3 separate regions of the Homo sapiens genome follow, and all the other regions are linked to region 1. Evidence: fine-mapped expression QTL. A gene starts in region 1. Each other region holds a variant in brackets. All regions are shown on one strand. Distances are between the middles of the regions. Region 1 holds the start of CTSA (cathepsin A). Region 2 has its middle 7.2 kb from the start of PLTP. Region 3 has its middle 2.3 kb from the start of PLTP.

What was found. PIP is the estimated chance that this variant, and not a neighbour inherited with it, causes the effect. A credible set is the group of variants that fine-mapping cannot tell apart.
Region 2: its variant is the best candidate, but not a certain one, in a credible set for the expression of CTSA in visceral fat (GTEx, PIP 0.70).
Region 3: its variant is the best candidate, but not a certain one, in a credible set for the expression of CTSA in whole blood (GTEx, PIP 0.71).

Annotation. Positions count from the first base shown.
Region 1 is chr20:45,890,003-45,892,502 of GRCh38, reverse strand. It overlaps CTSA (cathepsin A), which reads right to left and starts at 1,168. Exons shown (of 15, transcript NM_000308.4): 1 at 1,124-1,168; 2 at 741-934; 3 at 476-587; 4 at 180-230; 5 at 19-105. The coding sequence starts at 934. NEURL2 (neuralized E3 ubiquitin protein ligase 2) reads left to right here and starts at 1,295. Exons shown (of 2, transcript NM_080749.4): 1 at 1,295-2,253. The coding sequence starts at 1,512. It also overlaps a transcript of SPATA25 not described here. RefSeq lists enhancers at 832-881, 1,121-1,830 and a silencer at 922-1,191.
Region 2 is chr20:45,917,906-45,920,747 of GRCh38, reverse strand. No RefSeq gene overlaps it. Among named protein-coding and RNA genes, the nearest start is that of PLTP, 7.2 kb to the right of the region's middle. The variant G/A (reference allele first, on the strand shown) is at 1,417.
Region 3 is chr20:45,913,002-45,915,843 of GRCh38, reverse strand. No RefSeq gene overlaps it. Among named protein-coding and RNA genes, the nearest start is that of PLTP, 2.3 kb to the right of the region's middle. The variant G/A (reference allele first, on the strand shown) is at 1,651.

The DNA of each region.
Region 1 (2,500 bases):
GGCAGGCACCAGACTCACCTCAGTGTCATTAGTTGCATAAAACTTGTCATCGGAGTAGGAGAAGCCCACCCCAGCTGGGGACTCCAGGTATAACACATTGGCAATCTAGAGGGGAGGGAAAAATTAGCTAAATGCCACCCCATCCAAGTGCCCAGACACACCCACAGCTCCAGCTATACCAGATTCCAAGAATAGGGGTTGTACTCCAGGGTGACACCATCTGGCTGGACCTGAGGAGGAAAGAGATGGCTGAGTAAGTCCCAAGGGCCAGCTGGGTGGAGGGAAAGGGCCACCATGAGAGGCACTTTACATGTGGGTAAAACCTCTGAGAGGTACAGGCAGCAAAGCCAATGGCATAGAGGAAAATCCCGAGGCTTAGAAGGAAGGAAACTTTTTGGAAAATCACAAAGCCCCTCTCTCGCTTTCCCCAGCCTTTTACTTTGGGAACTGTGCTTTCCCCCTGCTGTCCACTCACCAGGAAGGGGCCATGCTCTGTGAGGAGCCCATCTAGTGAGCTGCAGCCGGGACCCCCATTGAGCCAAAGCACCACAGGGCTGTTCTCGGGATCCTTCTGGGACTCCACAAACCTGGGAGGGGGGTCAGGGCAGGGTTGGCGCAGTTGGAGGGGCCCTTTCCAGCCCTCCCGGCTCCCAGGCATCCTCAGGGGTCTGCAGAACTACCCCCCATCCCTCATCCGTCATCTCTTCTCCCAATCCCGCCCAGAAGGCAGGGCGGCAGACCAGTAGTGGAGGTGCTTGGAGCCGGAGCCTTTGAGGTAGCCGGAGTACTGGCGGAAAGACGGCTGCTTGGCCAGCCCGGGGAGGCGCTGGATCTCGTCCTGGTCGGGGGCTGCCTCGCCTCGGGACGCCCAGGACACTAGCAGCAGCAGCAGCAGCAGCAGCAGGAACAGCGGCGGCGGCGCGGCTCGGATCATCTACGGGAGGCAGCAGAGGGGCTGTTGACTCGCTCCTCAGCGCTTCCGTGCAGCAGCCCCCGGGGAGTTGCTGGCGGCGCCTCCGCGAGGGAAGCCCCGGCCCCAGCGCCAGCTCCCACCCGCGAGCCTCCTCTGCCGCGCACCGATCCCGGGCTCGGGGATCCCCTCCAGCCTCCGGTGCCAGCTCACCTCTGCTCCCCCGCGTCCTTGCTCTCCAGGAGGCGCCCGGGGACTGGAAGTCATGTGTACGAGTCACGTGAACTCCGGCGCCACGTGACAGTCTTCCTCCCGCCCCTTCTTTGGTCCCTACGGACCTGGGGGGCGGTGGCGGTCAATGCCGGGTCAAGGTCCGCGGGCCTCGCAGATCGTAGCCCGGGCGCACGCGATCAGATGATCCTGTTGTGGACGGCTAAGTTGTAGGCGGGATGGCTGAGAAAGCGGCGCTAGGACCCCCGGGCAGAGGCTCGGGGAAGGGAGTCAGGGGGGAAATGCCTTACAAGGTCGCCTTGCGGTCACCATCATTGCCCGCCGCCCAAAATAGCCCCCGGCGCCAGCTGGCCTGCCCTATGGCCGAGAGATGGCTGCTGCCTCCGAGCCCGTGGATTCGGGTGCACTCTGGGGACTCGAGCGCCCGGAGCCCCCTCCCACCCGCTTCCATCGGGTGCACGGTGCCAACATCCGCGTGGACCCCTCTGGGACGCGGGCCACACGCGTGGAGAGCTTCGCCCACGGCGTGTGCTTCAGCCGCGAGCCGCTGGCCCCGGGCCAGGTCTTCCTGGTCGAGATCGAGGAGAAAGAGCTGGGCTGGTGCGGACATCTGCGTCTCGGTCTGACCGCGCTGGACCCCGCCAGTCTGGCCCCCGTTCCCGAGTTTTCTCTGCCCGATCTGGTCAACCTGGGCCACACCTGGGTCTTCGCCATCACGCGCCACCACAACCGCGTGCCCCGGGAGGGCCGCCCGGAGGCGGAGGCAGCGGCCCCCAGCCGACCTCCAACCCTCCTCGTGGAACCATATCTGCGCATTGAGCAGTTTCGCATTCCCCGGGACCGCCTGGTGGGCCGCAGCCGGCCAGGGCTCTACAGCCATCTCTTGGACCAGCTCTATGAGCTGAACGTGCTGCCTCCGACCGCGCGCCGTAGCCGCCTGGGTGTCCTCTTTTGCCCGCGCCCCGATGGCACGGCCGACATGCACATCATCATCAACGGCGAGGACATGGGCCCGAGCGCCCGGGGACTGCCAGCTGCGCAGCCCCTCTACGCGGTGGTGGACGTGTTTGCTTCCACAAAGAGCGTGCGCCTTGTCCAGCTCGAGTATGGCTGTAGGTATCCCTGGGCAGCGACCCCTCCTGGCTCAGTGTGGGGACTGGAATCTACTAGGGCTCCGTAGCCCATGTGCTAGGCCTTCGTCTGTCCGGCACTAGTTTAAGAGTGGGAGAATCTAGCTTCAAATTGCACCTCTGCTTGTGATCTTGCACAAGCCTCTACATGGTTTTGGGCCTTGGTACCTATCTTGGTTGATTGATTAAGATGCCCTACAAGTTCCCTTTTAGTTTTGATAGTGTTTCC
Region 2 (2,842 bases), 28 kb before region 1:
ATCCTCCACCTCTTCCTCAAAACAAGTAGAGGCTGGAAAGCCCACGTGGAGTATAAGGAAAGCACAGACGGTTAGGAGGCTTAGAGGACCACAGAAAGAGGTCCCCATGAGTCAGAGTCAGCTAGCAGACTGACAGAGGCATAGAAACTGGGAAGAAGGGTGGGATATGAAGAAGAAAAGAAAAGGGAAGTCAGAGAGAGAGTGAGCTGCCCAAGGCTGACATCCGAGCCCTGATGGAGAGGCACCAGGTGTGGGGATACAATGCCCTAGGACCGAGGACCCAGGGAAAGCAACACCTCATAAGGAACCTTAGAATCCTTGAGTTTCTAATCTGGAGGTGACTTCAGACACCAAGTGGCCTGTTCTTCACACAGAAAATGGACTGGCCTTCAAGGAGGAAATGGGAAAGAAAGAAGAAAACAACAGATCTCCCAGCTTTAGAAATCACGGAAAGTCAGTCCACAGCTTTGGCCTGGCTGAACTCAGCAAGCCCCAGCCCTTTTAGATTCCTTTTACCCATTTGGTAAATGTCCAGCCCTCACGCGGACTGTTTTGTCCAGTTGCATTCTGGAAACAGATGATCATTTCGCCTGTCTGGAGAGATGTAATCGGGGTCTTCCTGGCCTGAGATTTGTCCTCCTCAGATAATCCTCCTCTCATTCCAGCTGGGTCCCCTGTCACATGTCCCCAGGTGCACCCATGCTGACCAACACAGGCGCATGAGCTGCAGTGCTCATATGCTCAGGCAGAGTGAGGAGAAGGGGGTCACTCCCTGAGGGGTAGCTGGGGTGGGCGTTGGGGGTGGGGACTGGGCAGGAGAGGAGATGGGCTGACGCAGCTTCTCCAAGCCATGCAGAGATCCAAAGAAAACACAGCTGGAGGCACAGCGAGGGAGGAGGGGGCCAGAGCAGTGCATGTTGACATGTTGGGCAGCAATCCAGCTTGGCCTCCTGTGGTCAGTGGAGCCCGTGTTTACTTCCTTGGACCAGTTATTTCCTCGTACTGAACCTCAGTTTCCAAATCTGCAAAACAGGGCCAATAATAGCTATCTCAAGGCACTGCTGTGAGAGTTACATGGGATAATGAAAAAGAGAGAGACAGAGAGAGAAACCTAGTTACAAGCATAGGCTCTGGGGCCAGACTGACTTGAGCTTATAACTGCTGGGCCTCAGTTTCCTTATCTGTAAACTGGGGGTGAGGATACCTATCTTGTAGGATGTTATGAAGTGTAAGTGAGTTAATATGTGGAAGCACTTTCTGGCCAAGTGTGGTGGTTCACGCGTGTAATCCCAACACTTAGGGAGGCCGAGGCAGGCAGATCGCTTGAGGCCAGGAGTTTGAGATCAGCTTGGTCTACACAGTGAGATTCTATCTCTACAAAAAAATTTTAAAAGTTAGCTGAGCATGGTGGTACAT[G/A]CCTATAGTTCCAGCTACTCGGGAGGCTGAGATGGGAGGATTACCTGAGCCCAGGGAGGATGAGGCTGCAGTGAGCCATGATCGTGCCACTGCCTTCCAGCCTGGGTAACAGAGTGAGACCCTGTCTCAAAAAAGCACTTTCTGTTTGTTAAGCAACTATGACAACTATTAATACTAATAATCAGGCCAGGCACAGTGACTCATGCCTGTAATCCCAGAACTTTGAAAGGCCAAGGCGAGAGGATCGCTCGAGCCCAGGAATTCTAGACCAGCCTGGGCAACAAAGTGAGAGCGCCCCACCCCGCCACCAAGTACTAGGTTCCACACTTTGTATACTTTATCACTTTAAATCCTCACTGCCACCCAGGGAGGTAGGTAAGTACTAGATCATCCCATTTTACAGATGTGGAAACTGAGGTTCAAAAAGTGTTTTTTTTTTTTAGAGACAGGATCTTGCTGTGTCACCCAGACTGGAGTTCAGTGGCACAATCATAGCTCACTACAGCCTCGAGCTCCTGGGCTTAAGCAATCCTCCTGCCTCAGCCTCCCAAAGTACTGAGATTATAGGCATGAGCCACCATGCCTAGCCCAGAAAGAGATTTTTCATTTCCTCTGGAACAGGGGTTGGTAAACTATGGCCTGTGTGCTAACTCCAGCTCCCAGCCTGTTCGTTAGATATTGTTTATGGCTGCTTTCATGCTAAAGTGTAGGGCTGAGCAGCTGCGATAGAGACCACAGGGTGTGGAAAGCCTAAAATATGTACACTTTGGCCTTTTCAGGAACAGCTTGCTGACATTTGTTCTAGAAAAAGGCAGAAGCAGGACTTTGCTATCCTGATTCCTTTACAGGAACAGCTTGCTGACATCTGTTCTAGAAAAAGGCAGAAGCAGGACTTTGCTATCTTGATTTCTTACCAGTATTGCTGTGCTGGGTACACAACTGAGGCTGGAAAGGCACTTCCTTCCTGTCCCTCTGAGTGCTGGGAAGCCTCTCCTTCTCTCTTCAAAGCCAGGGATGAGGCCGGGCGCAGTGGCTCATGCCTGTAATCCCAGCACTTTCAGAGGCCGAGGTGGGAGGATTCCTTGAGGCCAGGAGATGGAGACCAGCCTGAGTAACACAGTGAGACCTCATCTCTACAAAAAAAAAAAATTACAAACATTAATCAGCCGTGGTGGTGCATGCCTATAGTCCCAGCTACTCAGGAGGCTGAGGTGGGAGGATTGCTTGAGCCCAGGAGGTCAAGACTGCAGTGAGCCAAGATTGTGCCTCCGCACTCCAGCTTAATAGGCAGAGCCAGACTCTGCCTCAAAAGACAAACAACAACAAAACCAGGAGTGAAAGTGGGAAGGGATTTGGGGATTTGGCTCTCTCCATGTCTCAAGCCCGGTGATGAGCACTCGAGGAGGCTGCCAGAGCCCATCCCACG
Region 3 (2,842 bases), 23 kb before region 1:
CCGAGACAGCACCACTGCACTCCAGCCTGGGTGACAGAGTAAGACTCTGTCTCAAAAAAAAAAAAAAAAAAGAAAAAAAGAAAAAGAAAACGAGAGGAAAGGCCAGATGTGGTGTAACACCAGCACTTCGGGAGGCTGAGGTGGGTAGATCTCTTGAGCTCAGGAGTTCAAGACCAGCCTGGGCAACATGGTGAAACCTCATCTCTGTGAAAAATACAAAAATTAGCTGGGTATGGTGGCACATACCTGTAGTCTCAGCTACTCAGGAGGCTGAGGTGGGAGGATCACCTGAGCCTGGGGAGGTTGAGGCTGCAGTGAGCCGTAACTGCACCACTGCACAGCAGTCTGGGCAACAGAATGAGACCCTCTCTCAAAAAAGAGGGAAAAAAAGAAAGAAAAGAAGAGAAAACAGCCAGGTATGGTGGTGCACACCTGTAGTCCCAGCTACTTGGGGGGCTGAGGTGGGAGGATTGCTTGAGCCCGAGAGTTGGAGATCAGCCTGAGCACATGGTGAGACCCTATCTTAAATAAATAAAATGTATTTTGTTGTTGTTGTTAAAAAAAAATAAAAAAGGGCCAGGTGCACTGGCTCATGCCTGTAATCCCAGCACTTCGGGAGGCCAAGGCGGGCGGATCACCTGAGGTCAGAAGTTCGAGACCAACCTGGCCAACACGGTGAAACCCTGTCTCTAAAAATACAAAAATTAGCTGGGCATGGTGGCAGGCGCCTCTAGTCCCAGCTACTCGGGAGGCTGAGGCAAGAGAATCACTTGAACCTGGGAGGTGGAGGTTGCAGTGAGCCGAGATCGTGCCACTGCACTCCAGCCTGGGTGACAGAGCGAGACTCCACCCCACAAAAAAAAAAAAAGAAAAGAAAGGAAATAAGAGGAAAGAAAACTAACATCCACCAGGTTTTCTGCTTGAGCCAGGCTCTAGGAAGGTTACTAGAGTTCAAAGGAACACAGATACTTCCTCCTCTGGATACTCTTAACACTTTCTCTGTTCTCCCTCTACACCTTTTCTGCTTTGTTTGCTCGTGGTATGTGCCCCTAATTAAGATAGCTAGCATTTATTTGGCACTAATGATGTGTCATGTACCAGGCCCATTTATTCTTGCAATAACCTTAAATTATTGTTTCCATTTTAGGATGAGGAAATTGAAGATCTGAGTGCTTAAGCAAGGGATCAATGTCATACACCTAAGAACTGACAACCTGGGGTGTAAACTCTTGTCTGTCAGACACAAGAGTCTAAGTACATAACTACCGGGCTATAAAGCCCACCTTCCACTCTTCCATGAACAGTCTACGGATTCCCTAATAGCAGCCACAGAATTGCTTCAACCTCTACTTCCTGTTAAAGAGGGTTCATAATAGTGCCAGTCTGACAGGTTGTTAAGGTTAAATAAATTACCTAGAATTCGGATGACCAGTTGTAAGGTTTCCCAGGGACTGAGTGGGTTCCCAGGAATGGTTTCAAAATGGGGATGGCTGGATGTGTGGCTCACGCCTGTAATCCCAGCACTTTGGGAGCCCAAGGCAAGAGGATCACTTGGGTCCAGGAGTTCAAGATCAGCCTGGGCAACATGGTGAGACCTGTCTCTACAAAAAATACAAAACTTAGCTGGACATGACATGGTACCACCTGCCT[G/A]TAGTCCTAGCTACTCAGGAGGCTGAGGTGGGAAGATCGCTTGAGCCCAAGAGGTGGAGGCTTCAGTGAGCCGTGATTGTACCACTGCACTCCAGCCTGGGCAACAGAGCAAGACCCTGTCTCTAAAAATATAAATAGGCGGCCGGGCGCGGTGGCTCACGCCTGTAATCCCAGCACTTTGGGAGGCCAAGGCAGGTGGATTGCCTGAGGTCAGGCGTTCGAAACCAGCCTGGCCAACATAGCGAAACCATATCTCTACTAAAAATACAAAAAATTAGCTGAGCGTAGTGGTGGGTGCCTGTAATCCCAGCTACTTGGGAGGCTGAGGTAGGAGAATTGCTTGAACCTGGTAGGCGGAGGTTGCAGTGAGCCGAGATTGCGCCATTGCACTCCAGCCTGGGCAACAAGAGAGAAACTCCATCTTAAATAAATAAATAAAAATAAATAAATAGGCTGGGCATGGTGGGTCACACCTGTAATCCCAGCACTTTGGGAGGCTAAGGCAGGCGGATCACTTGAGGGCAGGAGTTCAAGACCAGCCTGGCCAAAATGGCAAAACCCTGTCTCCACTAAAAATACAAAAATTAGCCAGGTGTGGTGGCACATGGCTGTAGTCCCAGCTACTTGGGAGGCTGAGGCAGGAGAATCACTTGAACCCAGGAGGCAGAGGTTGCAGTGAGCCAAGATCACACCACCGCACTGCAGCCTGGTGACAGAGCACGACTGTGTCTCAAAAAAATTAATTAATTAATTAAATAAAAAAGGAAATGGAACTATTTTTGTGAATCTGTGGATTATATCAGAAAAAAAAGACACAATGGGGAAAGTCCTAGGCAAATCAGGATGAGTTAGTCATCCTTCCTAGATGAGTGTTTGGTGCTAAATACATGCTCAGCAGACATGATTATTGCTTCCCCTTTCTTTCGTCCATTTGGCAACAAAAAGGTGGCAAGCACCCACTCTGTGCCCTGTCCTAGGGTCCGGGAACCCTGTAAGCAGTAGATGGAGGTGGGGGTGGGGGTGGGGGCGGGGATGCTGTTCAGAGCACCTTGCTCCAAGGGTTCATTAAAAAATCCACCAGTGGACCGGGCGCGGTGGCTCATGCCTTTAATCCCAGCACTTTGGGAGGCCGAGGCGGGCGGATCACAAGGTCAGGAGATCGAGACCATCCTGGCTAACACGGTGAAACCCC